Linked DNA regions of Homo sapiens: all the other regions are linked to region 3. The links come from fine-mapping of genetic effects on gene expression. A gene starts in region 3. Each other region holds a variant in brackets. All regions are shown on one strand. Distances are between the middles of the regions. Region 1 has its middle 220 kb from the start of TMC3. Region 2 has its middle 24 kb from the start of LINC01583. Region 3 holds the start of MEX3B (mex-3 RNA binding family member B).

Region 1 (10,442 bases), 450 kb before region 3:
GGATTATGACACAATATTATGTTATAATATGAAACTTCTAAACAAAATTTTGATGGATTCCATAAGCCTCAAAAAGTCATTTCTCTATGTACAAAAGAATAATCACTTTAAGCGTCATCCTGAGAGGTGAAGCCAGCTGGACTTCTGAGTCCGGTGGGGTCTTGAAGAACTTTTCTGTCTTAGAAGAGGTTTGTAAAATGCACCAATCAGTGCTCTGTAAAAACACACCAATCAGTGCTCTGTGGCTAGCTAGAGGTTTGTAAAATGGACCAATCAGCACTCTGTAAAATGGACCAATTAGCACTCTGTAAAATAGACCAATCAACACTCTGTAAAATGGACCAATCAGCAGAACATGGGCGGGGTCAAATAAGGGAATAAAAGCTGGCCACCCCGCAGCCAACAGGGGCAACCCAGTCAGATCCCTTTGCATGCTGCGGAAGCTTTCTTCTTTTGCTCTTCACAATAAATCTTGCTGTTGTTCACTCTTTGGGTCTGTGCCACCTTTAAGAGCTGTAACACTCACCATGAAGGTCCCTGGCTCCATTCTTGAAGTCAGCAACCACAAACCCACTGGAAGGAGCCAACTGTGGACCTAATCCCATGATGTTTCTAATCAAGAAAGAGAGAAACAGTTCTCAAATTCTCAAGTGCAGCAAATATGATTCTACTGGATTTCTAAAGAGTTTACTTCTAGGGGGCTGGGCACAGTGGCTCACGCCTGTAATCGCAGCACTTTGGGAGGCCGAGGTGGGCAGATCACAAAGTCAGGAGATTGATACCATCCTGGCTAACACGGTGAAACCCCCTCTCTACTAAAAATACCAAAAAAAAAAAAAAAATTAGCCAGGCATGGTGGCAGGTGCCTGTAGTCACAGCCACTTCGGAAGCTGAGGCAGGAGAATGGCCTGAACCCAGGAGGTGGAGCTTGCAGTGAGTCAAGAACTACTGTACTCCAGCCTGGGCAACAGAGCAAGACTCTGCCTCAAAAAAAAAAAAAAAAGTTTACTTCTAGGGATTACCTGTGCATTAGGATTTTCCAGAGAAACAGAAACAACAGGATACGTATACATAGAAAGAGATTTATTATAAGGAGTTGCTTCATGTGATGATGGAGGCTGGCAAGTCCAAAGTCTGAAGGATGGGTTTGGAGGGTGGAGACCAAGGAAGAGCTGATGTTACAGTTGAGACTCAAAGCCCATCTGCAGGCAGAATCCCCTCTTGCTCAGGGAAGGTCAGTCTTTCATTCTAGTTGAGCCTTTGACTGATTGGATGAGGCCAAGCCATATTATGGAGGACAACCTGCTTTACTCAGATTCCCCCAATTTAAATATAAATTTCATCTGAAAACGTAATTGCAGAAACATACAGAATAATGTTTGACCAAATATTGGCACTGTGGCCCAGCCACGTTGACATATAAAATTAACCATCACAGCCTGATTATTGGAAATAACCTAAATACTCATGAGTGGCATTAGATGGGCAAATAATAATACCTGGTAGAATATTATGTAGCTACTAAAAATAAAAAATAAATGTTACTGAAAACTGCCTATGAAATAAGATTTTATGAGGAAAAGCAGACTAGAAATGTGCATATTTACAAAGATAGCCCATAGCCTGCCAAAAACAAATGTGCATGCCAACAGTGAGTAGAAGAAAGTCTAGGAAAAAATTGGGAGTAGTGGGGATGAGGGTATAAAGTTTCTAAAATTTATAATAAAATATTTCTGCAATTATGATACAAACTGATGATTCAATCATAAGTTTATAATTTCTGTTATGCCCTATAAAATTATTATTAAGCAGTCACTTGAAAAATATTTACAGGCTCTAAGTATTAGGTTGAAATCAATAAAACTTCCATACCTAAATTGGCGAAGGATGTTCCAAACTTTCTTATTTCTCTTTAAAAATAAGTGCCAAATCAAAGAGATTTGATGGATTTATTTGAATATGTTCTTTTGATAAGGGTCTTAGTGATCCCAGGGATAAAAAGAACAAAGGATAGGCATTCACACAGCTGGCTATCTGCTTTTAGAGAAATCCCAAGCCTGATAATTATATAAGACTCGAAAAGAAATCTTCTGAAGTTCTCCTCTCGCCTTATCTTTCCATTCTCTCATAAAACTGTCTAGTTAGAGAAAGTGGCAAAGTATTCACTTCTGAGTACAAGGAGTAACATAGATTCCAAACAAAACTCATTTGCAAGAATAAAAACTCCATTTTAAGAGAGCAGGGTATTCTCACTTATTTTCCCTATTGACAGGTATTATGGTCTGAATTTGCGTGTTCCCCAACCCAGCCAAACTCACAGGTTGAAATCGTTATTCTCAATGTGATCGTATTAGGAGGTGGGGCCTTTGAGAGGTGATTAATATCATGAGGGTGAAGCCCTCATGCATGTGATTAGTGCCATATAAAAGAGGCCCCAGAGAGCTCCTTCTCACCTTCCACCATGTGGGGATGCAGCAAGAAGACAGCCATCTATCAACCAGGAAAAGGGCCCTCACCAAACCCAAAATCTACCAGTGCCTTGATCTTGGACTTGCCAGTCTCTAGAACTGTGAGAAATAAATGTTTGCTGTTTAAGCCACTCGGTATATGGTATTTTTGCTATGGCAGCCCAAACAGTCTGAGATAGCAGGGATAGAGGCTTGTACGAGTCAGGGTTGCAACAGGACCAGACAGCTGAAGTTTATTAAAGACAGAATGTGGGGAGAGAACCAACAGCGAATGTTGGGGTACCCAGAAAGTAACAAGAGCAGGAAGCTGTTGTTGTCTGAGGCCTAAAGGAGCACAAGGTTACCTTGGGGTTTGGGTCATGGTATCAAAGTCCACTGAGAGCTGGAGCTGAGGAGAAGGAACTCAGGCAAAAGCTGTAGTCCCTGAAAGACACAACTGCTCTCAGTATCTCTGTGCCTAAGTTGGGAGCAAGTGGGGAAGAAATAACTGCGACTCCTCTCTGCTCTAGCTCTGCGTTTCTCTCTGCTCTAGCTCTGCGTTTCTCTCTGCTCTAGCTCTGCGTTTCTCTCTGCTCTAGCTCTGCGTTTCTCTCTGCTCTAGCTCTGCGTTTCTCTCTGCTCTACCTCTGCGTTTCTCTCTGCTCTAGCTCTGCGTTTCTCTCTGCTCTAGCTCTGCGTTGTCTCTTGATGGTGCCTCCCATTAGTCGATCCCATGAGAAGCTGGTGAATACGGGTACCTAGATGATACAGGCCATTAGGGGGAGTCTCTTAAGTCCCAGAGCAAGGCAGAGAATGGCAGAGGAAGGGAGAGAAGAGCTCTCATCTCATGTGGGTAGGGGTAGGAGGCCAAATAGAAAATAATCAGCACAGTGTGTTCTTCGCTGAGATAGGTGGAAGAGGTGAAAAGTCTCTTCAGGGTTTTGCTTGACTTTTGTTAGGAAATGATAGTTCTCTCCATAATATAATATGAGCACCAACCAAGAGGCTTGTGTCCTCAATTGTGTGAAGGTCGGCTGGAGTTTAACGAAGAGCTTGGGTCCTCATCATCCTTCACTGAAATACCTACAGGGTATGCTGACCTGGAGGTGATAATTGTATTTCAGAGCCTGGTACTTAACACCTATCAGGGTCAAAACAGAATCAGCAGCATCTCACCCAAATGGAGAAGAGCGAAGGTCCCTGGGGCAGTGTATCATGGTCAGCATTTGTAATGGGTCACATTTTCCACGAAAGTAAAGCCCTGTAAGTTTTTATTATGCCCAAGCACAGCTTTTATGTTTTATCTTTGCCACCTCCATGAGAAAAGGGAGAAACTAATATCCCTTGGTTGGTCAAACCCATGGTGAGGGTAGATGCTCATGGTTCAGAAGCTCCACCTGTGCCATAACACAACTCATACAACTAAGGGAGGATGCTATTTCCACTTGTGATGTGTACAACCCCAAAGATGACAAAAGCACTGATATTTAAAAAAATTTCTGATGTTCAATGTCTTTATAAGTGTTAGTAATAATCATGGCCCAGTTCAGGCCGTGCTCTAAGAGAATGCCATATTATCTCTGAATGGAGACAGATTTGCAGTGGAAAATGATATTCATATCTCTCTTGGTTAGATATATGGCTCATCTACTACAGAGCTCTCCCAGAAAGAACTGTGTCTGAGGGCTATCAAATCCTTACCAGTATGAAATAAAAATCCCTGAGTCTTCTTGCCAGCAACTGTTTGTCAGGAGATGTTCTCAAGGCTCATAGCTTGCCATCTCTGCCAGTCGCTCCCCACTCTCCTTCATAAGGCATTTCTTATTGTGCATCCTGCTTCTGTAGTATCTTTTGGCTTGTCTTTGATTACAAGTATTGTGATTAAAAATTTTCTTTGGGGCCAGGCACGGTGGCTCACGCCTGTAATCCCAGCACTTTGGGAGGCTGAGGCGGGAGAGTCACCTGAGGTCAGGAGTTCAAGACCAGCCTGGCCAACATGGTGAAACCCCATCTCTACTAAAAATACAAAAATTAGCTGGGCATGGTGCCAGGCGCCTGTAATCCCAGCTACTCAGGAGGCTGAAGCAGCCAGGGTTCACTTGAACCCAGGAGGCAGAGGTTGCAGTGAGCTGAGATCATGCCATTGCACTCCAGCCTGGGCGACAAGAGTGGACTCCGTCTCAAAAAAAAGAAATTTTCTTTGGAATCAGTCATCATTCAAGTCTGCGAACTGGACCTCTGCTTGTTCACCAACTCTGTGCTTCATTTTCTGTTCAATTCACTTCCAATTGAAACCAACTTTTTTTTTAACCTATCACCCTGAGCTTTGTATCAAATATCTGCCCAAATATCTTCTTTTTTTCTTTCCTTTCCCTTCAGACAACTTATCTAATCTTTGTGTAAAAATAGTGTTAGATTTACTACTGTTCCCTCCATGGCTTGATATCATTACTACATCTTACTTTCCTGTCCATTCTTACTCTATTTTCATTTCTTGAGGAAAGTTTCACCAGTATTTCCTGTCTAATTAACTGCTTGAGGTCTAAGTATGCACTGTATCTCTCTCTCTCTTTCTTTTAATTTTTATTTTATTTTTGAGACAGGGTCTCACTCTGTCACCCAGGCTGGAGTGCAGTGGAGTGATCATGGCTCACTGCTTCCTTGACCTGCTGGATTCAAGCAATCCTCCCACCTCAGTCTCCCGAGTAGCTCTGACCACAGGCATGTGCCACCACACCCAGCTAATTTTTGTATTTTTTATAGAGATGGGGTTTCACCGTGTTGCCCAAGCTGATCTCGAACTCCTGAGCTCAAGCCATCTGCTCCCCTTGGCCTCCCACAGTGTTAGGATTACAAGTGTGAGCCACCACACCCAGCCTTTCTCTCCCTTTTACTCTCTCTTTACTTGTAGCCATCTCTCAACTATAGATTTGCAGCTTTTCCTGATGATTATGTTTGTCTAGCAAGCCATGTTACACCACTTGGCTATATTGCCCTCATTTGAATAACAGCCTACAGCCTGTCACTCCCTTCAATTTCAGCCATTATTCCAGTCATGCCGGAGCATGAGATTTATTTGCCCATTGCTAACATTTCCTGTACTTAGAGGGCATGTACCATACAGTAAAATTCTAGAAAAAGGTCACTTCTTTGGCCAAGAGTGAAACCTGGTCTTGCATTTAGCACTGTCTCTAAACAACAATTATAGCTCCCTGATCCTGGCCTTGCTCTCAGGGGTACACAGCCAATTTGTGTGGGTTTTCCATGGAGAGAGAAGATTCCAGGGGAGAAAATCCCTGGAGCTTGCACGTCGTTTTTCATCTAATTATGAGCATGTTACTGAGCCTTTCTTGCCTTGTTCTTTGACACTATTTCTGAGTTTTCTAAATTCTTCCTTCCGTTTTCCAATCTGTCAGTATTAAAATGAATTTCCTTATATTTTTAGATTTTCAGTTATGAGAACAACAACTCATGCATAGTAGCTTCTG[G/C]TTTTCAAAGACTGAAGCCCACCTGCCTGTTCCGGCGTAGATAGATCTAATCTAAAGATCTTTTTGTTGTCCAAAGATCTGTCTCCTGAAGCTGTCTTTTTTTTTTTTTTTTTTTTTTGTGCATTTGGGATGAGCACAGATATCAAGACAGGAAGACCATGGCCCTGGTATATTACCATCTTGTCTCCAGAGAAATGTAGAAGGAAATAGGTTTCAATTCACTGCTTTCCAGTCTGCCACGTGCAGCCTTATCCCTCAGAGGAGTGAGTCTCTCAATATCTGGGTCACTGGCCCAGATTTTTCTGTCTCTGTGCTGACTGACCACAAGACATCTCTAGATGTCAGGATTGTTTGGTATGCAAATTTAAGTAGCCCTCCTTGTGAGGCTTACTGTGCACTTTGTGCATTAGAATGGCATGTTCAATGAAAAAGGAGTGAATTCACCCTTACAGGTGGGGAAGATGCCAGAAGGGAGGTGTGTCTCACCTGTCAGATGCAACTTCATAAATGCTGTTTGCTGGGATAAGCTCTGTGCATGTTCCTGAGAATTCTTTTTCTAAGATCAAACTTTTACATGTAACTTGAAAACACGTGTGGTATGTTTGAATGTGCAGAGTGACAAAACCCAGATGTACAATATTCTTTATTTCTCTCTGTAATTGAACTCTATTCAATTATTTCAGCTCTCATGTCCTCAGTATTGCTGATACCAGAAAAGTTAGCTAACTCAAGGTCTGAGATTTAGTCTCTTGGGTAACCATTCAGTCATTTGAAACATTCTCAAAATTCAGCTCCTCTCTCATCTTCCTTTCTCCCTGAGGAAGGCCTAAATTCTGGGGTTGAGGGTGAGGAAGAAAAAGGAATCTTGACACCGAAGTAAATGGGGTGTCCAGTCTACAATCCTTCTCCTTTCAGATTGGACTCCATGAAGTGTTACTCATTGGAAATAGTCTCTGGCAAATTGTTTTGACATACGTTGTTTTGGTTTTTTCATTTTGTTTTGTTTTGAGATGCAGTTTCACTCTTGTCGCCAAGGCTGGTGTGCAATGGCATGGTCTCAGCCCACTGCAACCTCCGCCTCCGGGGTTCAAGTGATTCTCCTGCCTCAGGGACTTGGAATCCCTGCATAGCTGGGATTACAGGCACCCACGACCATGCCCAGCTAATTTTTGTATTTTCACTATAGATGGGGTTTCACCATGTTGGCCAGGCTGGTCCCGAACTCCTGACCTCATGTGATTCACCCACCTCGGCCTCCCAAAGTGCTGGGATTACAGGCTTGCCCAGACACATTGTTTTTTTGGTTTTGTTTTGTTTTTTAATAGATTTTATTTTTTGGAGTGGTTTTAGGTTCACAGCAAAATTAGGCAGAAAGTTCTGGGAACTCTTATATCATCACTTCCCCACACACACGCACAACCTCCCCAGCTATCAACATCTGGCACCACAATGGTACATTGTTATAATTGATGAACCTACATTGACACATCCTCATCACCCAACATCCACAGGTTATATTAGGGCTCACTCTTGGTATTACACATTCTATGGGTTTTGACAAATTGCAATGACGTGCAACCACCTAGTATCATACAGAGTAGCCTCATTGTCATAAAATTCCCTTCTGCTCCACTTATTTATTCCTCCTGCCCACAAACTCGCAGAAACCAGTGGTCTTCTTTATGGTATCTATAATGTTGCCTTTTCCAGAATGTCATAGACTTGGAATCATACAATATGTGGCTTTCTCAGATTGGCTTTTTTCACTTAGTGATGGGCATTTAAGTTTCCTCTGTTTCTTTGCATGGATGGATAGCTCATTTCTTTTTAGCACTGAATAATATTTCATCGTGTGGATGTACCACAGTTTATTTATTCATTCACCTACTGAAGCGCATGTTTTTGACTTCCAAGTTTTGGCAGTTGTGAATAAAGCTGCTATCAACATCTGTGTGCAGATTTTTGTGTGAACATAAGTTTTCAGCTCCTTTGGGTAAATACCAAGGGGCATGATTGCTAGATCATATGGCAGGAGTATGTTTAGTTTTGTAAGAAACCACCAAACTGTCTTCCAAAGGGACTGTACCATTTTGCTTTCCCATCAGCAGTAAATGAGAGTTCCCATTGCTCTACTGCCTCAACTTGTGGTGTTATCAGTGCTCTGTATGTTGGCCACTCTAACAGCTGTGTAATGGTATCTCATTTTTGTTTCAATTTGCAATTTTCTAATGACATATGATGTTGAGCATGTTTTCATAGTTTATTTACTTCTACATATCTTCTTTGGTGAGTTGTCTGTTCAAGGCTTTTGCCCATTTTTAATTGGGTTATTTATCTTCTTATTGCTGAGTTTTAAGCATACTTTGTATATTTCAGATAATATCCTTTATCAGATAATGTATTCTGCAAATATTCTATCCCAGTCTGTGGCTTATCTTCTCATCCCCTTGGCATTGTCTTTTACAGAGTAGAAGTTTTAAAAATTTTAATGAAGTCCAGCTTATTAATTATTTCTTTTATGGATTGTGCCTTTGGTGTCCTATCTAAAATGTCATCACCAGACCTAGAGTTACCTAGATTTTCTCTTATGTTATTTTCTAGAAGCTTTATAGTTTTGTGTTTTACATTCAGGTCTATGATCCATTTTGAGTTAATTTTTATGAGGGGTGTAAGGTCAGTCTGGGTTCGTGTTTTTGCGTGTGGGTGTCCAGTAGTTCCAGCATCATTTGTTGGAAACACTCTCTTTTCTGCATTGTGATGCCTTTGTTCCTCTGTCAAAGATAAATTATGTTTCTATGGGTCTAATTGCTGATCTCCTTCCTGTTCCCTTGAACTATTTATCTGTAACATTCATTTTTGATGTGCACCATTCTTCTATGGGCTCTGAGAGCCACCTGCATACACAATGTCTCCTTGCCTTAAGCCCTACCTCCATGGGTGCTGTGATTCAGTCCTGAGTGTTTAGGACTCTGCAAGTGCCCCACTGCTCTGAGCACCTCATCTAGTCATTGCTACTCTGTTCCTCTGGTTTTACAAAGGATGGCGGGCCTCTAAGAAAGGTTCACAGAAGCCACTCCAAGAAGCAAAACGTAAATCACCTTTGCTCTCAGGTTCTCCTTACAACCCTTTGGAATTTTTTGCCAAACTCTTCTGTGAGGCAGCATGTCCTTCTCCTGCCAGAATGTTGAATTTTTATTTCCTTTTGGGTAGAAATTAAATCTTTTAACAGCATGCATTCTCTTCTAAACTATTGAGGGTTTTTTTTTAATAGAAAATTTATGCCTTCCTTCTTTAGAGTTCTTGGTCTGTTTAGTCTCAAAAGACTCTCTTTCTCTCTCAAAAACAAATAATCAAACAAAACTAAAGACTTATATTCTTCAATTGAAAATGTTGGCTTTAAAAATCTATTATTTAAACGAGTCTAACAAATTCATTCAGCTACTCCATTCATGCCTGTTGTCTTTATTCTAGGGCCTGGGCTCTGTTCTTCTACCCTGAGACTAGTTCATCTAGTAAGTTGTCTCGGCTCCTTGACTAGTGGGGAAAATAAAATGGTATTAAAATGCATAAGAAAAAAAAGTTCAAAATATTGTGGGTACACACATAAACATACATATATATTTCAAACAGAAAAATAGATAATCTTATGAATTTAAATAAATAAAACACTATAGACACATTGGTACATTCCTCACTAACCTAATTTAGGGGCATAAATTAGTTTTACGTAGTGAAGACAATAGTGTACTAGAAGATTCTACCTTTGCTTATACCACTAACCAGTAGTATAACTGTAAGCCAGTTCTTATTTCAGTTTTTTTATCAATCAAATATAATATTTAACTAAATATTTAAATATTTAACGGCTGTTAATGAATGGTAGGGCCGTTGGTTATTTATCTTTTCCCTTCTTGTCTGCATTGTCCAAAATTTTTAGTGGATACAAAATATTTAATCAGATATTCCCCTAGTTTTTAAAAATGTAAAATTCAGCAGTTGCTATGAGATCCAATTGTTCTCATCTATCATTGTGGCAAATATCCCACTCTTCAAATGCCCCCAAAGCACCTGGCAAAAGCAAACACAAGTTCTCTCCAAATGAGGATCACATCACTCTAGACCTCAAATTATTTCTAAATGTAGTTTTATACATGCAATATCCAGTATCAAATTTAAGATAACCAGGAAATCCAAGAAGACCATAAAATATAAATGAGACCTATAGAGAAACATAAGAATAGAACAGGTCTACATGTACTCCAGATATTAGACTTATCAGACACATCCTGTAACATAACCATGTTTACCATGATAAAGGAGATTAAAGCCAAGCTTAAAATTTTCTGCAGGGAATGGAAAACTGTAAAAAAACCAACACAGATTTTGAAAAGAGCAATGAGAAAATTCTACAACAGAAAAACACAATAAATAAAATTTACACATAGGTTGAGGAACATATGAGACATATGAGCATATGCTGGAAAGAGAATTAGTGAACTGGGAGAGA
Region 2 (10,442 bases), 65 kb after region 3:
TTCTTTTCTTTCTTTCTTTCTTTTCTTTCTTTTTTCTTCTTTCTTTCTTTTCTTTCTTTCTTTCTTTTTCTTTCTTTCTCTTTCTTTCCTTCCTTCCTTCCTTCCTTCCTTCCTTCCTTCCTTCCTTTCCTTCCTTTCCTCCCTCCCTCCCTCCCTCCCTCCCTTCCTCCCTTCCTTCCTTCGTTCCTTCCTTCCTTCCTTTCCTTCTTGCTTTCTTGCTTTTTTGAGATGGAGTCTTGCTCGGTCACCCAGGCTGGAGTGCAGTGGCGCGATCTCAGTTCACTGCAACTTCCCCCTCCCAGGTTCAAGCAATTCTCGTGCCTCAGCCTCCCCAGCAGCTGAGACCATAGGCACGCACCATCACACCCAGCTAATTTTTGTATTTTTTAGTAGAGAAGGGGTTTCACCATGTTGGCCAGGCTGGTCTCGAACTCCTGACCTCAAATGATCTGCCCGCCTCAGCCTCCCAAAGTGCTGGAATTACAGGCGTGAGCTACCATGCCAGGCCTGTGTCACCCCTTTATTCAGCAGACTACAGTCCTGTGTTTCAATCCCACCTCTGCCACTTTCACTCTATTTGGTCTCAGGCAGGTCACTTAAACTCTCATCTCCCTCCTCTGCAAACATGAGTACCTGCCTCACAGTTCTTTTTTTTTTTTTTTTTTTTTTGAGGTGGAGTCTCGCTATGTCGCCCAGGCTGGAGTGCATGGTACGATCTCAGCTAACTACAACATCCATCTCCCGGGTTTAAGTGATTCTCCTCCCTCAGCCTCCCGAGTAGCTGGGACTACAGGCATGTGCCACCATGCCCGGCTAATTTTTGTATTTTTAGGAGAGACGGGGTTTCACCATGTTGGCCAGGCTGGTCTCAAACTCCTGACCTCAGGTGATCCACCCGCCTTGGCCTCCCAAAGTGCTGGGATTACAGGTGTGAGCCACCGCACCTGGCCCTGCCTCACAGTTCTATCATGAAACAACATACATGAAGTGTATAGCAAGGGCCTAACACATTACAGGGACTTCATAAGTATGAGTTTCCTCTCCCACCCCGTCCTTATTTTTATCCTGTCAACAAATTAGGGCGAAAGCACCTCTGTAGGTCTTCATTTTACGTGATAAGGCCCACCTTTTTGGGTCTTTAACTTCCCTCACATTTTTCTGATAGGGCCAAGTGGCTGTTGCTGGCAGCTGCTTCCAGCTCATGAAGTCAGCCAGGGGCCAGGCAGGGCAGTACGGCAGGGCTCCACCAGAGGGGAGCAGAGAGCTGGGGCTGGGGCTGGGGCTGCGCAGGTGAACCTCAGCGGCAGAAAGGAGGCAGATGTGGCACATGGGCTGGGGGAGATCTCCGGGCTCTATCATTAGAGGCTGAAGGTTTGGGGGTGTGGACTGGTGTCACTCAACTGAGGACCCCAGAGGCAAAGTCTTACATGAGGGTGAGTCTTGAGTTAAACAGGAAGTATTCCAGAGAGTCTAGGAGAAACCTTCTTTAGACAAGGGAATGATCACAATAGCTGCTATTGATTGAACGCTTTGCTCTAGTAAGGATACGATCTTGGGGGATCTTAAGTCAGTATATTTTTATCCAGGGTGATGGCTAGTGCCAAGCCGAGTAGGCCCCAGCCCTAAAGTTCTTCTAGAATGTAGAGAAGACACCCTAGCAGTCAAGGGGATTGCAGCCTAGGGAAGGGAAGGGAAGGGCATTGAGTAAGAGGAGATTCTCCCAGACGGGAAGGAGAAGTAGAAATCCTGCTATTTCCCTTTGATGGACCATGGAAGGGAGAGGGACAGAGGAGGAGAAGCAATGGCTGAGACACAGGCATCGTGGCTTCCTCAGCCAAAGTCCCAGGATGTGGTGGGGTGGGGTGAGGATGTCTTTTTTTTTTTTTTTAAAGACGGAGTCTCGCTCTGTCGCCCAGGCTGGAGTGCAGTGGTGCAATCTCCGATCATTGCAAGCTCCGCCTCCTGGGCTCACGCCATTCTCCTGCCTCAGCCTCCCCAGTAGCTGGGTCTACAGGTGCCCGCCACCAAGCCCGGCTAATTTTTTCGTCTTTTTAATAGAGACAGGGTTTCACCATGTTAGCCAGGATGGTCTCGATCTCCTGACCTCGTGATCCGCCCGCCTCGGCCTCCCAAAGGGTTACGATTACAGGCGTGAGCCACCGCGCCCGGCCTAGGATGTCTTGAGGTGACGCCACCAGTGGAGGGGCTTGTGCATGTCATCTGGGCTGGGACTCTGGGTACAGACCCCCTTGTATGGAGCTGCCATGTTTACACGGAGCAGCCAGAATCAAATGGAGACCCGACCCAGTGGGGTGGAGAGGTCTGGGTTAGAGCTCCACAGCTTTCCCTTGGCATGGAAAGGGCCAGAAGAGCCAGTGGAAGGGACCTGCCATGCTAAGGGGCGAGGTGACCCCATGATGAAGGCCACAGAGTGTTTAACTTAGTAAGGGTCAGGTGGAGGGTGCATCTGAAGCTCAGAAGGCCGAGCAGAGCAGTGAGGAGCTGGGATGGGGCAAGTCGGCAAGGGAAGAAGACAAATTTCAGGTTCATCTCCATACTCCGGGAGAGAAAAGCCAGAAGTAGCCCATGGACCAGGCGTCTCTGCCTCTACCTCCTGCACCTTCTCCAGTTCCAGCCACTCCCGTTCCCCCTTCACTGCAGCCACACCAGACTCCAGCCCTCAGTGCTGCCTTGCTGCCTTTGGCCACAGGCCTCCGCACCTCCCTTCTCTCCTCCTGTCACACTCAGCTTCCTAGATCTTCTTGGCTTGGTCATTTTCCTCTCTCTCATACTCTCTTTTATAATGCTACTCATTTTCTTTGGTTGTAACTTCTGCATTTATCTTTGCAGTTCTTTAACACCTGCTTCCTTGATAAGATTTTAAGCTCCACAGGGGCAGGGGCTGTGCCTGTTTTCTCTTATCATTGTGTGCCCAGCCCCCAGCACAGACACTGGCAAGCTGTAGATCCTCAATCAGTATTTGTTGAATGACTGGATAAATAAGTAGCGGAATAAATGAATGGATGAATGATCTGTGACAGTTTCTTTGCAGGGCAACGAATTCTCCATTCATTTTCAGATATGCGTCTAGCACCGAAGGTTGGGGAGGCCGGAACAGTAATGGTGCAGGCTCCAGCCCTCACAGAAGAGAGCTGGTCTTTCCCCATGTCATGCTTGTTCTGCCTTTACCTCAAAGTTAGGGCAGCATTTACTTTTTCAGATAAAGAAACAGGATTTCCAGGGTCTTTGAGTTTTGTTTTTACTTTTCATTATGAACATTTTCAGCATACAGGAAAAGTAAGGAGAACCGTATAATATCCTTTGGAGAGGATGTATTTTAAAATAAATTATCGGCTTGGTGAGGTGGCTTCCGCCTGTAATCCCAGCACTTTTGAGGCTGAGGTGGGTAGATTACTTGAGGTCAGAAGTTCGAGACCAGCTTGGCCAACATGGTGAAGTCCCATCTCTACAAAATTACAAAAAAATTAGCCGGGCTTGGTGGTGCACGCCTGTAATCCCAGCTACTTGGGAGGCTGAGACAGGAGAATTGCTTGCACCTGGGAGGCAGAGGCTGCAGTGAGCCAAGATCACGCCACCGCACTCCAGCCTGGGCAACAGAGCAGGACTCCAACTCAAAATAAATAAATAAATAAATAAAGTAAATTATCATTATCATGACAATTTACCCCCAAATACTTCAATTTGTACCTCTAAAAAATAAGCATACTTCCCTACTCCACTAAAATACTGTTATCACTCCTAACAAAATTAACTGCAATTTTCTTTTTTTTTCTTTTTTTTCTTTTTTTTTTGTGACAGAGTCTCACTCTGTCACCCAGGCTGAAGTGCAGTGGTGCGATCTCGTCTCACTGCAACCTCTGCCTCCTGGGTTCAAGCAATTCTCCTGTCTCAGCCTCCTGAGAAGCCAGGACTACAGGCACGTGCCACCACGTCCAGCTAATTTTTTTTATTTTTAGTAGAGACGGGGTTTCTACTAAACCGTTGTTCCAGGCTGGTCTGGAACTTCTGACCTCAGGTGACCCGCCTGCCTCAGCCTCCCAAAGTGCTGGGGTTACAGGCGTGAGCCACCGCGCCCAGTCAATTTTCTTAATATTATCTATCTTGGCTTGTTTGTGCTGCTATAACAAAATACCTGAGACTAGGTAATTTATGAAGAACAAACATTTATTTTCTCATAGCTCTGGAGGCTGGGAAGTCCAAGATCAAGGTGCCAGCAGGTTTGTGTCTGGTGAGGGCTGCTGTCTGCTTCCAAGTCCTCTGGAGTGGTGGAACGCTGCATCCTAACACAGCAGAAGGCTGAAGGGCAAAAGGGATAAACTCTCTCCATCAGACTCCTTTATAGGGGCACCTACTCCCATTCATGACTCAACCATCTCCTAAAGGCCACATCTCTTACTACTGTTGCATTGGGGATTATGTTTCAACATCAATTTTAGGGGAGACAAAAACATTCAAACCATAGTATCATCTAATACTCAGGCCCTATTCACATTTCCCCAGTGGTGTCTAAAATGTCTTCTCCAGTTGGTTTCCTGGATGCAGGATCCAATCAACATTCTCACCCAGAGCAGCGCATTTTAAAAACCATCTCAAATGTCTTAATTCAGACCATATGTTTCCCAATGTAGAACACAGAGAGAACCAGACGTCTCCCATTTACATTTCAGCAGCCTCAGTCCTTTTTCAAAACTGCCTTGTGCGGTGCGGTGAGCAGGTCCAGGAATGAACGGCCACAAAGCCTAGATATGCAGTGACGCACGGCTCTGCAGACCCTCCAGGCGCCCAAGGCAGCCACACAGAGCAGGCGACATGCAGCCACACTGCAGAGGAGCAGAGAGATGAGCCACAAAGAAAGTATTTTCTCCTTCTACATTTCCGTCCGGGAGACCTCACCACTATTCTAGATGGCGCTGCCC[T/C]CAAGCAGGGCCCAAGAGGCAACAGTGTGAGTCCAACCCTTGGAAAGCCATCCACTTGAGGGATAAAGTCCCTTCTCCATCCAGCTTTTAGTCTTCAGGCAGCTCTGCAGGCTCAGCCCTGCCCGGCCTTCTTGCTGGAGGCCTGGGGCCAGGCAGAGAGGGCTGCAGACACAGGCAGGTGCCACCATAATGTTCTGGTGTCGGGGTTGGAGCTGTTCATGACTAGCTGTGCCAGGAAAGTTTTTTGTTTTTTAACTTGATGGAAATGTTGTGGTTTTCACATTGTCTTGGGACAAACAGGAGCTTGGTTTACAGTCCCGAAGTATGTATCTGCTGAATTGTCCTTTAGTTGATTCTCTCGGGTTTCCAAGTTATGCCTTTTCCCCTTGGGCAGCCGAGGGAGCACAGCTTCTCCACTCAGCCCCTCTTTGGTTTGCTTGCCTCCACTGTCAGGAAATTCCACCTTAAGTACCCTAACCCTCTCCCTGTGATGATGGGGTTTGGACAGACTGATGGGCATAGGACTCTTCCCAGTCGCTCCCTGTGCTCCAGAAAAGCTGAAGGCAGACTGGAAACATATTAAATACCTGCAGGAGCCCCACTCACCAGGTGAGCACAGAGGCGGCCATTCACAAGGCCACGATTCCACTTCTGCCTTGGGCCGTGGTTACCATTAGGCACAGCCCCCCAGCACCTCCATGCCCTTCAGGACAGAGCACCAGGAAGCCTGTGGGAATCAAACAGGATGGGAAAGCCTCTCTGCCCCCTCCTCCCACCCCATTTAGATCCAGATACTTCCTCGTCACAGGGGGCCTGTCCTGTGCATTGCAGGATGTTTAGTAGCTCCTCAGACTGTACCCACTGGATGCCAGTGTATTTCCAGACATTGCCAAATGTCCCTGGGGGACAAAATCATCACCAGCTGAGTGCTCCTGTTCTGAGTCTTAAACAAAGGACCCATTTGTAAAGCCAGGAAAGTTCCAGGACCACTCACACCAGCTGAGTGGAGCAGTGTGGGGAGAACCTCAAGCCAGGCATTCTCAGTGTCTTGTTCTGAGGAAGGGAAATGCAGAGCAGCTGCCAGGCCAGGTCTGTCTTTAGCCCTCTGCTTCCCTCTATTCACATAGGGGAAGCTGTACCAGAGCCCTGGCTTATGATCTGAAGGAAACAATACTGTCACTGAGATAGGATTGATGGGGCATTTTCCTCCTGGAAGTGCTGATCCATGAATCATTTCCAAGCAAACCACCCATGGCATCCCCATTCCCTCTACTCTCTCCTCCTCCCTTCTTTCTTATATCCTACCACCCCCAGCTGACATCTAGCCTAGGCCTCTAACTCTGTCCACCCCTGGGCTTGACCCCACACTGGACAGCTTCTCTGGCCACAGCTAGAATAGCCATGAGTTGCACCTGCGGGCCCTCCCACCACACTTACTGCTCTGTCACCTCCTTCTCATTTCCCCAGAGGGGCTGCAGTGGGGTGAGAGCCCTGCATTAGAAAGCCAAAGGGCCTGGGTCTGAATCTGAACTTTACCAATCACCGGGCAGGAAATTCAAGTCATGCATGTAAACCCCTTAGCACAGTGCCCGGCACACAGAGCAGTTCTTACGTGTCAGAATGGGTTTCTCTCCCTCCTCCTTCCCTCTTCATCTATCTGGGATAGTGAGGCAGCCCCTTCCTTAAGGGGCACAGGAAGTACCCGCAGGATTGTGAACCTGGTTATGTCTGCAAATGCCACCCCAAGGCCACTTTCCTCCTCTCCCCAACCATTGCAGGATCCACAGCAGGCTGCATTAGGGGTTCCAGATGCAGCCAAGGACGGAGAGCCTACTCAGGAGGAGGAAGGAGTGAGAATAAAAGGACGTGGGTCTGAGGGGACCAGGGAAAAGACACAGAAGTCAAGAGAAGCGGTTCTTCTGATCAACCCGCTGGAGGAGAAGGGAGATGGTGCTGGTGGCCTTGAGAATCAAGGGCTGAGAACCCAGGCTTGGTAAGTGTGAGCACCTGAGGAGGAGAAGCCCCTGGAATAGGGGGAGGGGCCACAACACTCCAAGCCTCCCCCATGGACTCCATATCAGGGGTTAGACTGGATGACTCAAAATGGACCATTTTATACACTCTTCCCATCTTCTGTGGGTACAAGAATGGCCTTGGAGGAAGCCCTGTTGGGGCTTAGACCATATTCCCTATCCCTTCCAGCATGATGCTGGTGGGTAATACCCTGGGTATCAGAAATGGGGAGCAGTTGATTATTATTCTCACTGAGGTGAAAGTGCAGGATCTCCCAGAGGAGGTCAACATTCTCCAAAGATTAGCCCTCCTTTTGTGCCTTCTTCTTGCCTCTCCCAGTCCCTCCTGCCACCAAACCTGCTTTCCACCTCACTGAGAACATCCCGCCTTCTTGGTTCTCTGGCTTCTCCGGCCCCTCATGGCCTTATGCCTTCCTCGCTACCTGGGCCTCAACAAGCAGCCTAGACTCACTTGCCACCTCCCGCCCCACACCCTGGCTTCTATGACCACCCTGTCATCTCTGGCCTCACCCTCAGCTCCACCTGCCAAGTGCAACTTATTTAACCTCTCTGTATCTAGTTTCCTCAAATGTAAGGTGAGCACCCACGTCAGACAATTGTCAAGAGGCATTAGAATGATTGGCATATAGTAAATTATTAATTATTTTGGAGTATTGTTAAATGCTTGGTAGAGTGCCTAACGCCTAAGGGCTCAATGCATGGCAGCTGCTATTATTGTGTGAGTTCTCTCATTTGCCAAGAGCTAGAGCAGCCAGGTCTTTTGGAGCCAGCCTTCTGTGTGGACACGCAACCCATGGGGAAGACTCTCCTAAGATGACCCGAGAGAATTACAGACTTCTTGTGTTACAGCAAGTAATGCGTTTTCTGGTGTCTTCAACCCCTTCACCTGGCTGCCTCGACCATGGGTGCAGCCAAAATCTTAGAGAACCAAATTAAAAACAGAGTGAATTAAAGGAGGAATAATTACTTTCTACCCCAATTTTAAAAGTTCAACTTTATAGATAAAGATAAGGAGAGAAAAACCAATAGTCAAATAATCAATAATGCTTGCCCCTCTGTGTCTGTGTGTTTTCCAGGTGAGAACAATAATTTGTAATTATAGAAAGATTTGATCAAACATTTTCCTATTTGGTGAAAGATGGCAGCCCCAACATCATAACCTATGGGGAGGCAAAGTCTGAGGCCAAGCTGCATATGGCTGAGGCCTCACCTGGACCACTCTGGATTCCAGCATCCATGCCACCTGCCATGGTTCATGACATCCATTCCTTGGAACATTGGGGAGTAGATTCCAATTGACCAGTGTTAGGATCGGGCAACTGAGAGGCTCACAAGGGCCCTCTTTGATACGAGAACAGAAATGATGAGACATCCCAGGTCTCTCTGATGCTAGCTGTGTGAGCAAGTTTATAAACCAATCTGTGCTTTGGTTTTCCCAGCTATCAGAAGAGGTTATCTGGGAGTTACGGTGACATTTAACAGAGGCAAGCCATGTAAAAAATAAAGTGCCTAGAATGGTATAAGGGCACAGGGTAGGAGCTCAAAAACAATATTTATTATCAGTGTTACTAGTCTTATCATAAAAGAGCTGAATCGTAATGTGGCAGAGTAAATACACTTTGTGTGAGACAGGCACATATCTCAGAAAGACTCTATAATATTAGGTAACATCAGCGTGCTCTTTTCATCTCTATCCCCGCCAAAACTGTGTGAGGGTATCGGCTCTCTAAGATCTATATTTCTTGTACATGAGTAATATTAAAATCCAGAGGGAAGGTAACCAAGGGTCACTACGTTTTATTTTTATTTTTTAGATTTTTTTGAGATGGAGTTTAACTCTTGTTGCCCAGGCCCAAGTGCAATGGTGCAATCTCAGCTCACTGCAACCTCTGCCTCCTGGGTTCAAGCGATTCTCCTGCCTCAGCCTCCCGAGTAGCTGGGATTACAGGCACCCACCACTACGCCCGGCTAATTTTCTATTTCCAAGATGGGGTTTTACCATGTTGGCCAGGCTGGTCTCGAACTCCTGACCTCAAGTGATCTGCCTGCCTCCGCCTCCCAAAGTGTTGGGATTACAGGTGTGAGCCACCGTGCCTGGCTGGGTCTCTACATTTAATAAGAGTGTGTGTGTGTGTGTGTGTGTGTGTGTGTGTGTGTGTATACATATTTTCCCAAAAGTGGTAAGATTTGGAAAGTGTACCATTTGTGTAAGTTGAACTTTGCCAGGCCACACTGTCATGGGGAAACAGAAGGAATCCCATCCCTTTGCCTCCTACCCATCTGCTATTGCATGACCTTTAGTTCTTGGAAAGGGGGCCATGATTTTTGCTCAGTTCTCTCACAGTATCTTAGAGGTGAGTCCCTCAAGGTATAAAAATGGAGCTGTGTTCTCTAGAGCACACGGTGTGTTGAGACCAAGCTGTGCTCTGGGCAGGCATGGAAGAGGTGGCCTCTACTCTCTCTTGGGCTGCCCTTTGTATTAGAGGAAGGAAACTTCACTGTCTCATCTCCCAGGGGCTCAGAGATTTCATAAGACAGCTTTCCAGTGTGTGCTTGCAGCCTGCAACGAGTTCATGGAAGGTTGGGCCAGGAGACAGATCTGAAAGGCAAATCCCAGGTGAGCTCATGAGAATCAGCAAGAGAGATGGCCGGCCTGTCCCATTTCTGACTTGTTAGGTCTGAGGTGGGGCTGAGACTATGCCTTTCGGACCAACTGTCAGGTTATGCTGAGGCTGCTGATCAGGAGACTCCAGCATCTTTGGAGAACCCCTGGCCTAGGACTTTATTATTGCATCAAAGTGTCTGCCTAAGTTCTCTTTCTAGAGAAGACCTTGGGATCTGGGGCACATGTATGCAAGTCACCTTAATTACCCTCATTCTTGCAGATGCAGAGAGCTTGGTGAGGAGTCAGCAGCCAACTAAACTGGCTGCTTGAATCCTACAGCTGGTGACAGTGGAACTGGATATGGTGTGCATGTATGTGATTCTCAGAAACCAGCAAAGGAGACGGTGCATTCCAGGGAGACGCTGAGGGTGTCACCCAATAGGGATCTACAGCTGTTGATTTTCAGATGTGCTCCACAGACCCCCTGGGGGTTCCATGGACGCCACCAGGAGCAGTCGACTACTTTTGGGCCCAGGTTTGAGGGTCGTGAAACAGGGCAATTCCACTTTGACAACTTTTACACTGGAACATCCATGTTAGGTTTCTTCTGGAGAAAGCACTTTGGCTAAATCAGTCAGAATGGCCCGGAACTAGGTAGCCTCCATGTGTGCCTATTTCAGGAAAGAGCAGACATCACTCAGCTTTCCATATGGAAGGGGGTCGAGATGGCTTAAGCTGACACAGGGAAACGAGGAGGACAGGATCTTGTCTGTGCAGCCAGGCCTCCCGGGAACCTAGGGGAAGAAGAGTCACCAGGCGCCAGTGTTGGGAGTGCAGCATGGCCAAGTTGCTGGGAGGCGAAAGTGA
Region 3 (10,442 bases):
AATACTAAAACTAGAGTGGTGCAACAGAATTTTTGTAACTTGCACTGAATTCTATTTATACAAATGTTAGAAAGCATCAACAGTTCTTTTTGACATGTTTATACATTTCCGTTTTTGTAATAATATAGAATAAAATATGCTTTATATCACTGAATAGAAAATATGCTGGGTGAAGCAGATCTAGAAGATTTGTCTGAACCTATAAAATCTCCATCCCAACAGAATACTGTTCAAAACATTACACATTTTATGGTTGTAATTCCGTCACAATTGTGTGATTATTAAAATAATACAGTGTTCTTTGCCATAAGGCCATACTAAAATAAAAAGATTTAACCCAGCTACAAAAAAGTTCACTGAACTTAAATTAAAATACTTGTAAACATCTTTGCAATATGAAATATAATTTTTCAAGTCAAAAAAGAATAAAATACTTCAATCTGTATTAATGCAATTTCTCTTTAAAACTTTTAAACGTTTTTAATATATAAGAGATATGTTACAGTTTCTTTAACTTTAATAAAGCTGCAGTATCCTGGTTTCACAGGAACTCCTGGCCCTTCCACGAACATTCAAAAAGGATCCACTGTGTTCTATAATAAGTATCATAGGAACCCACCCACAAAGGGGAACACACTAAACAGTCCACACATCCCATAGCACTACTATCATCTTCATCATAATTATTACTGTTCATTTTTTCCTACTTTAAGAAAATGGAAAACTTGTGGGGTTTTCTTCTTTTGGAAGCTTCCTATTAAGTACAGTGTAAAAACTATCATTACTAGAATGTCGCCGTTCCTATTATTTATAGAGCATGCATTTCAGGTGTTCAGGTTTCCCAGGCTACAGTACTCTTGATGCAGATATCCTGGCAAATTCCTTTACTTAAAAATTAAATTTTAAAAATGAGCGGATACTACAGCTTTCCAAGCTCCTCTCGGATCTCAGAGTGTTGGTGGGGCCGGGAAGGAGAAGGGAGAGGGGGGGCACCCAGGGAGGCAGGCGAGCGCTGGGGAAAGAGGGTGGGGAGGGGTTCCCCCTTCCCCCAGCACGGTGCGCACTAGCAGCGCCCGCTGCCTTTAAGAAAAGATGCGGATGGCCTGAGTGACCGCGGTGTGGCAGACCGGGCACTCGGGCTCGCTCTTCTCACAGATGCGATTGGCGCACTCCATGCAGAAGAGGTTGTGGCCACAGGGCACCAGCGCGGCAATCACTTCGCTCTCGAAGCACACGGAGCAGTCGCGGCTGCCTTTACGCCGAAGCCCGGAGGAAGAGGATGAAGAGCTGGAGGAGGAGCTGGACGAAGAGGAGGAGCCCGACGTGTCCGACGGCTGCAAGCCAGGCAGCTGTGCCCCCAGCCCGTTGGCATAAGCGGCGTAGGCCAGGCCTCCTCCACCCGGGTCGCTGCGCACCCGGCGAGCCAGGTGGTGCTCTCCCGCCCCCGGGGCCATGTGCAAGGGTGGAGACAGGCGCGGGCAGCTGGTGCCAGGGTGCAGCCGGCGGTGCACCAATAGCCCCAGGTTGGCGTTGGAGGGCGCACTGGCGCCACCCCCGGGGAAGACCACGGAGGAGGAAGAAGCAGACGAAGATGCAGAAGAAGAGCAGGAAGAAGATACCGGAGCTGCAGGTCCGCCTCCCGGGGACCGCTCGAACTGGGCCCAGATAAGTGGTGCCCCAGGTGGGGGAGCGGGAGCCGGGTCAAAAGTGGGCTGCAGCTCGGGGCAGCCGTCGGGGGATGGCACTGAGGCTTCTCCCCCCGCTGTGTAGGTGTACCCATTGCCGTTATTGTTATTGTTTCCGTTGTGCGCAAAGCTCAGGGCGGGGCTAGGGGGGCTGTAGTCCGCCAGGCGCTGGGTAGCCGCTGCGCTGCTGCTGGTCCCGCCGCCGAAATAAGAGTCTGTGGAAGCACTGCCAAGCGAGCTGGAGCTGTCGTTGCGGTAGCTAGAGAAAGGCTTGCGGCCGGGGGTGGGCGTGATGCTGGGGGTGGGCTTGCTCCAGAGGCTGCCTGGGCCGGACCCGCCGGACCCATGATGCAGATCGAAGCCCACATCGGTGCCGTTGGCGTGGAAGTCGTTCTCGTCTGTGAGCTCAATGATGCCGCCGGTACGCAGAGCAATGTGCGCCTCAATCTCCTCTCGAGCGCGATCCACGTTCTCTGGCATGCCGGTCACCTCGAACACCGGCTCCTTATCCCGGCTGGGCGTCACGATGTACGTGTGCGTCTGCTGCTGGATGCGCTTGATTGTGGCGCCTTTGGGCCCCACCACGAGCCCCACCACGCGGTAGGGTACCCGCACTTGGATGGTGGTCTGCCCGGGCAGGTTGGGCGGCCCAGGCACCGCGCCGTTGAGTGCCGTGTTCTTATTCCGGGAGGCGCGGATCATGGAGAAGTGCTCGGCAGCAGAGATGATCTCCCTCCGAGCCATGGCCACATCCTCCTTCCTGCCCGTCACAACAAAGACAGGCTCCTCCCCGCGAACTGGGGTCTTGATGTAAGTATTGGTCTTCGCCCGCAGCGCTTTGATTTTACAACCTACGAACCAGGGTGCGGAGGAGGGAGTGGGAGAGAGAGACAGACACGCCCATTATCCTGGGGTAACCGCGGGGACCGGGGACAGCCCGCGTCCAGGACAGCGAGACGGCAGGACAAGAGATGGGCGGAAAGGGGGCGTCTCCCTCACTGACCTCGGGCCGCGCCACGGGCTGGGCAGCGGATCCCACCCGCGAGGCGCTCGAGGAACAGCCCATTGGCTGCCTGGCCCTCCCCCAGTGACTGCAGTCGTCCCGAACCAAACCCGAGAATCCCAGAAAAGTCATCTGGGGAGATGCCGCTGGGATCCAGCTGGGCGCGCCGTCAGCTCTGAAGACACGGGGAAGGGGCTCGGGGAAGGCAGCTGAAGTCGCGATGCCTCAGCGCTGGTCGACTGGGGGTAGGGGGTGGGGTGTGAGTCCCGGGACCCATTGTTCCTCCTCTGGGCTCCATTCCGCTTTGCAGAAATCCAGAATCCTCCTCCCATCCTATGCTCACTCCTCCTCCTTCCTCCTCCCAAAGGACTGATCAAAGGCCCCCTCCCCCAAGCATCTTACATTTAAATTGTCTTTCTGGAGGTGGGCTGGTTGGGGGGCGTTAGGGGAGAAGGCAGTGATTTTAGCAGAAGAAAGTGCATCCCGCCAGGGCAGCGGCGCGGCTCCGGGAGACAGCCTGCCTGCACTTTCTTTGTCTGGGGCGCCGGCCCATCGCGCGGCTCTTCCTCTCTCCCCAAGGCACCCCACGCCGCGGATCCCGATACTGAACACGCCTTCCCCTCGAGGCAGTGGCCTGAGACCCTACACCACCCCCACCCACCTCCCCATCCCTCCTCGACCTACCTTGCCGCCCCACGATCTCGGCGACATGCTCAGAACTGGGTACTGGCACGCACTCGGTCATGTTCACGCTCTTCTTGCGCGGCTCGCTGTCGTACAGAGAGGCGCCCTCGTCACTGTCCAGCCCCAGCAGGGAGAGCTGGTCGAGCGCGAGCTGCAGGGCTCTTTGGTCATCCAGGGTCTCTCCCCCTCCGCTGCTGCCGCCGCCGCCGCCGCCGCTGCCGTTGCGCTCCAGGTCTGCGAACAGCGAGCTGGGCATCGCTCGGCCGTGCGCGCCGCGCCCCCGCCGGCCCTCGGCTCGGCGGCGAGAAGCTGCGGCCACAAAGGCAGCCGGGAAGCGGGTGGTCAGGGGCGGGGAGGCCGGTCGCCTGCTGAGGGCTCCGTTGCTTCTTCCTCGGTGCTGGGAGGAGTGGGTCGCTCCGTGCGGTCCGCACCGGGCAGTGGCTGCAGGAGCCCCCACCTGGGTCCCCACCCCAGACCTGCTGGCGGGTGGGGTGGGGGCAGAGCTCTAGCGGTGGCCGCGCGTGCCCCCCGAGTGCCCGGCTGGCTGGCCGCAATGCCGAGCGAAAAGCGAGCAGGCGAGCGACAGAAGCGTTTCTTTAAGGAGCCCCTCCCCGGCTCCTCCACTCCCTCCCTCCCGCCCGCCCGCCCGCCCTCACTCAGCGCTTTTTCCTCCTCTCCTCCCCGCCTCTTGACTGAGCCTCTGCAGCCAGACGACTCCGGAGGGGGACGAGGGAGGCGCAACGTCACAGGCGGGAGCTGACACCACAATGCTACTGACACTATCGCTGGGGGAGGCGATTGGCGCGCGCCAGGCCGGGGGCGGGAGGAGGCCGCGGGTTGAGCGAGCGGAGAGAGAGCGCCACCCCCCACCCCCGCGCTCGCCGCAGCCCGCCCCGTCCTCCTCCCGGCCGCGCCCCTCCCCCGCCGCCGCTAACGCCTCTCTTTGTTGTCTAATGCGGGACTGGCAGGCTCGGGACACTTGGATGTACCTATCAGCCGAGGACAATCATTGTCCCTAAGTCTCCTCCCTCGCCTGACTGAGAAAAGAAAACGCGCCCAACTCTGATGCCTGGAGCCGGGCTCTAAAAGAGCGGTCCTCAGGAAGTCCCGTTAGTGGCTCCAAATAAACCATCCGTGGAGCCAAAGCTTCCTCTGTGAGAAGAGTCTGTAGTCCGCCCAAAAGGGCGACCCGAGCCCTCCGACACGGAAAACGGGACTCCAGGTCTTGGGGCGCACGGGCAGAGTGACTCCCGGCGCGGGTTGTCCACCTGCGCGGGAGCGCACGAGACACAAAAGCACACGCCCGCCCACACTGGCAACCGCGCGCGCGCGCGCCCGCGCCTGCATTTCTGTCTCCTTGGGCAGCACTTCGCCCAACTGGCCCTGAAACTGAGGATGGGAAAGCTAAAAGCTGGCTGCCGCGCGAGCTCGGCCCGCCCGGCCGCTGGCGACCTCTGGAATGCATGGCACCAGTGTCCAGCACACGCCCGGCGCCCGGGCCGAGACCCTGCGGGTTCTGACACGCGCACGAGCGCCGCGCCGCCACCGCGGGGACGCAGGCCACAGCGCCAGCGGGCGGCGCGGGCGTGCGCGCCCGCTGTTCCCATCCCTCCCCTCCGTGCCCCGCGGCCGAGCATGCGCAGTGCGCGCGAGGAGCGGGCGGGCCCTTTAAGGCGGGCGCTGCGGAGCGCGCGCCGGCCCCGCCCGCGGCCCCGCCCCGACGGGAGGTGAGCGCTCCCTGCCCGGCCGCTCTTTGTGCGCTTCTCGGGGTGGGGGTGGCGGCAGAGGGAGGTTGCGACGGCACTTGCCGGCGAGGACGGCGAGCTGCGCCCCCTCCCGGATCTCCCAGGGACCGTCTCCGAGTGCGAGAGAGAAGGAAGGAGGATTTGAGGGGCGGGCCGGGGCGGTGCGCGCTGGTCCTCTCCGCGCGCATCCCCCTCCGCCGCCCACTAGGGCGGACGCCCCTTCGGGCCCCGCGCGCTCTGCTGTCCTTTGTTCCGGGAGCCGCCGGGCTCGCCGCGCCCTTTGCGTCCCGCTGCGGATCGTTCCGCAGAGCGGCTGGGCCCGCGGTTCATAGAGTCGCCCAAGATCCTCACAGAGGGACGTCTTCCCAAAACAATGAGGCCATGCGGCCGCAGCCGCACACGGGCTGACTGGGGAGATCTCGTGGTGCCGCGGGGCGGTCCCGGGGCTCGAAGGCAGAGGCTCCCCTAGGTGTGCCCTGCCTGACCCCGGCTACAGGAACGAGCGCTGTGGGCCTCGGTTTCTCACCCGTAAAATGAAGAAAATAATCCCCGCCTTTACCACCTCGTGGGTCGTTCGGAAGATTAAATGCGACAGTGGATGGGCGCGCGCTTACAAATCAGTAGACAGTTCCGCAAGCGCCTTTACTTTTGAGAACGCGGTGGTGCAGCTCCCTTCACCGCTTGCTTACCTGGAGCTGTCTTGGGAAAGAGGTGCTGATTATTTCCTTGGGGAAATGGGTTTAGAAGCCACTTACAGTGGTTATTTCCTCAGGATGTTTACGTCAGCTTCCCGGAGCCTGGTGTGTGTTTTTCTTAAAAAGGAATGTTCGATGGGAGGAGGCAGGTGGGAGGATGGTGCCGAGTCCTCCGTGAAAACCACCACTTAGAGCTCCAGTAGGAAATTACTGTATTCTTTTGACCCGGTTTATGGACTTGGAATCCAACTAACTTGGGAATGAGGGTTCTTGCCGAGATGGAGGGTTTTGAGTAAGGGGTCCTGGCTGGGGAGAGCCAGAGATGAGGCCCAGCCTCCCGCGCTCACGCAAGGCCTGTAAACAGAAAGCAGACTGGAAAGGCGCTTGGAGCATTTCCATCTTTTTAACACAAAGGGCTAGTTTCTCGCCTCTTAGCTCTGTTTCTTTGAAATTTCATAGCCTTCGGATTGGGCCTGCTGAGGTTTCTTTTTTTTTTCCAAGTAGAAAATATGGTGACAGTAAAGTTGTTCCTCCGCTGATAAGGAGCTGTGCACGGATAATGGGGTGTAGGGAGAGGTTGCTTCTGCTAGGGAGCTTGGCCGCTAATAGTTTCAGACCTGCCATAACTCCTTCTCCTTGCATCTACAGCGATAAGAATTCAGATGGATTAATTCTGAAACGTGTTTAAACTTAGAGGATTGGATATTTCAGAGGAGTCCCTGGGTGGCTGGGTCATTACCCGGAAGGTGAATGCAACATTTCTCCAAGGTGACATGTTTAATGTCATTCTTCCCTGCTGGATCCTGAAGGCAGGACTTGTACTTGGCTGTAACTGCCAATGTTCAATGAAATCATACATCTTCACCCACATGAAGGATAAGCTGAACCCCTTACCATAGGAATTCATGGAAAGCTGCCGATCCTGAGGTGCCCATGTTCATGTAGCCCAGGTCACCCTCCACAGAGAGGAACACTTGAGTAAAACCTATACAGAGATCCGCATGCTTTTCTGAAGACACCCACAAAAGCGAAGGCACTCTCAAGAGCATGGGAGGGTGGTGAGAGTGATAGAAGCAGTTACTATGTCTGACAGATCTAGTTTCCAGCCCCAGCTGTTCTTCAGTGTTGGCTGTCAAAAGAGGACGGCATCCAGCTTCCCACCTACCTCATAGGGTTGCTTTAGCGAGACGGATAATGATAGCAAAAGCTAACTCGTAAATTCCCAGGTACTCAGCAAATGTAGTTGGCGCTTTACTCACAGCTACTCCTTGCCTTCTCTATTTGTATACCTTACTGACTGGTCAGGATATTTTCCGACACTTGACTGCTGTTGTAAAAGTAACAATCCAGAAATTTTAATTCTCAGTTAGTGGCTTTAATAAGCCAAGATATTGTAAAACTTGCAAAGTCCGGTTCTGTTTTTCAATAGATAATACATCCTAACCCCATAGTTTCTGGATAGACTTTCCCAGGCTCCTTTAGGACCCCAGAGCTTAATTACTTTTCCTGATGCAGAACACATTCCCTAAGGACTTCTCGATGTGGCCATAATATTTTTTATTAGCACAGGAGAGAAGCTTGCAGAATGAGGTCTGGCAGTATAATAGAGAATTTCAGTTGTCATAAAATGAGAAAAAGTAAAGTTATCACACAAAAACAAGATTAATGATGAGGCAACCTTGTTTTGTTTCCAGATGTCTCAAAACTATTTTGTGCACATCTTGCTTACTTTTGCAAATTAAATAGCTTGCAAAAGAAACGGAAATCTTCCTGTGAAAACAAACACATGCTCAGTCAACTCATTTAAGATTATTGAGCACCTCCATACTGTATTATAGGCACAGAGAGAAGTATCGATTATACTGAACTGAAATGAACAAAGGTGGCAGAGGGGCAGGATAATGTCTTTTCCTTGAATACTAGTGATGTCCAAACCCAGTCACACAGAGAGATAAGTGCCCAGATAGTAGTGAGTCGGCTTAGGGTCCTAGAAGGGCTTCCCAGAGGAGGGGATACCTGAGTTGTGCTTCCAGTGAATGTGGTGTGAGAATGAATTGAGACTGGAGCCTAGCACAGTGCATAGCATCTAGCAGGAACTCCTAAATGCTTATTAAATGAGTGAGTGAGCCAAGCTGCAGCATCTTGAAGGTGTAACTTTAGGTATGTACAGGAATCGCTCAGTCTCTGGGAAGCAGCTCAAATGACACCAGCCACAATGACATGATTTTGAATAAAATTAGTAATCACAGGTGACCCTTATTAAGCACTTATTATGTGCCAATGTGCCAGGAAGTTTACAAAATGCTTTACAATACAGTATCTTGTTTAATCTTTCTAACTACTCAGAGGCAAGCACTTTTATTATCCCCACTTTACAGATGAAAATAAGTCACTTACCCAAATAAAGGCAGATTTGCCTCCAAGCAGATGAAATGAAGCTACAGGGCTCCTCACTTAACACAGACCCTTCCAAGGCCCTGGAAGAGGTCCTAGCAATATACTTACAAGATCACATGAAATCACTAAAATTTTCACAGGTAAATGTTTTATTATTTTCTTTAAGGAGAACCCCTAAAATGATACAGGCTTCGCGCCCCACAAATCTTAGATCCATTATTGTGCCCAGGGTCACACAGCTGGTATGTGGTACCCCGAGCCTGTGATCTTAACCAACGTTAAGTTCCTTCCTGTCTCTGAGCTATGCATTTTCAGCTGGAAGTTGGAAATATTTCCAGTCCTGCTTCTCACACAGGATTATAAGGATCACATGTGTGAGGGGACGTGAAAGCATCTTGATTTTTGATGTTCTCCTGTGTCTTTGTGTGGTTAAAAGTGTGTGTGACATATAACACATGTAACACACACACATTTTTAAAAATATTTTAATAATATAGGAAATGCTATCCTTATGTTGAGTGAAGAAGGAGACAATGTGTGTGTGTGCAGTGTGTATGTATGTGTTACTAAACACTTAGTAAGCATTAGAAACAGTGAATGAGTAGGCTACAAGGAATTGCATCAAAATTTTAACAATGCTTGTTTTCTTTTCCTTGTGATGGAGTCTTGCTCTGTCGCCCAGGCTGGAGTGCAGTGGCGCAATCTCTGCTCACTGCAACCTCGGCCTCCCGGGTTTAAGCAATTCTCCTGGCTCAGCCTCCCAAGTAGCTGGGATTGCAGGCACACGCCACCATGCCCAGCTAATTTTTTTTGTATTTTAGTAGAGATGAGGTTGCACCACGTTGGCCAGGCTGGTCTTGAACTCCTGACCTCAAGTGATGCGCCCGCCTTGGCCTCCCAAAGTGCTGAGATTACAGGCGTGAGCCACCGCACATGGCCAACAATGGTTATTCTTTAAGTAATGAGATCACAATTTTATTTGTATTTTACTTTTCTGTGTGGTTCAAGTTATGAACATACATCTTTATTCGATTAATTTTTAAAGTAATACGTCCTGAGTTTTAAAAATTAAATCATGCTAAAAAGCTTAATAAAATAAAACCACTCCCCAGTCCTGTCCTTGCTGTAAATAGAAGCAGAAAACAAATCTAAAGCTAATCCTAGCACACATTTATATGGGCCCTTACAAGTAGCTTGACTTCTAAAATTAAACATCACTTAGTTAATAATTGGTAATAACCATTTTGCAATATCAGAACAGAGTAAGAAAAATAGAAAGTAATTTTAAAATCTCTCAGAAATCAAGGAGACCGGAAACACAAACTTCAGGAAGAAGGTGCCATTTTTTCTTCCTGAGCAGAGATAAAATAGATCAGTGGAATTCAAATGTTTTTTACAGTTGAATCCTTTGTTTCCCAAAGTCGTAGGCTGAACTCATATCTATAAAACTGATGAAATCCATAGAAGGTTAGAATCGCAGGATGCTAGAGAGTGTGTGGTCCAACACACTCAGCTGACCGCAAGCTGAAGGCCAGAGTAGGAAATGGCTCCCCCCAACGTCAATTGCCCGTTGATATGGAGCCGGGCAGGAAGCCAGAGTGAGACATCCAGTGTGATGTGCTCTGTTGCTTTGTGATTTAAGGAAATCTGGTATTGTCCCTAGTGAACACCTTCCATGTTTCATGCTTTGGCTTTGGGGTAGTATCATGAGTCAGTATTGCTGATATCAAACCTGAGAGGTTGCTAAGAGAATCACTCCCCAAATGTAGATAGTAGACAATAAGGAAGGGGGCAGTAGTTCAGGATATTTAAAGACGGTCTCACTCACCATTCCTCTCCACTTTCCTTTCCCTGAGCTGAGGAATGCCTTTTGGTGAAGGGAATGTCTCAACGAACTATATAACCCTGCTTGGGGGAGACAGAGGAGGGACCAGCAGCCAAAGTTGTTCCACTGGGCGAATATCCTTTTTTTTTTTTTTTTTTTTGAGACAGTCTCCCTCTGTCGCCCAGGCTGGAGTGCAGTGGCGCGATCTCGTCTCACTGCAAGCTCCGCCTCCCGGGTTCACGCCATTCTCCTGCCTCAGCCTCCCGAGTAGCTGGGACTACAGGTGCCCGCCACCATGCCCAGCTAAGTTTTTGTAATTTTTTTTTTTTAGTAGAGATGGGGTTTCACTGTGTTAGCCAGGATGGTCTCCATCTCCTGACCTCGTGATCCGCCTGCCTCGGCCTCCCA

The links. PIP is the estimated chance that this variant, and not a neighbour inherited with it, causes the effect.
Region 1: its variant is fine-mapped to the expression of MEX3B in whole blood (INTERVAL, PIP 0.94).
Region 2: its variant is fine-mapped to the expression of MEX3B in tibial artery (GTEx, PIP above 0.99).

What each region holds. Positions count from the first base shown.
Region 1 is chr15:81,590,430-81,600,871 of GRCh38, forward strand. No RefSeq gene overlaps it. Among named protein-coding and RNA genes, the nearest start is that of TMC3, 220 kb to the left of the region's middle. The variant G/C (reference allele first, on the strand shown) is at 5,936.
Region 2 is chr15:82,107,427-82,117,868 of GRCh38, forward strand. No RefSeq gene overlaps it. Among named protein-coding and RNA genes, the nearest start is that of LINC01583, 24 kb to the left of the region's middle. RefSeq lists a silencer at 1,249-1,328. The variant T/C (reference allele first, on the strand shown) is at 4,938.
Region 3 is chr15:82,042,078-82,052,519 of GRCh38, forward strand. It overlaps MEX3B (mex-3 RNA binding family member B), which reads right to left and starts at 3,941. Exons shown (of 2, transcript NM_032246.6): 1 at 3,373-3,941; 2 at 1-2,536. The coding sequence starts at 3,628. The coding sequence ends at 1,083. RefSeq lists silencers at 3,721-4,020, 4,871-5,190 and an enhancer at 4,244-5,190.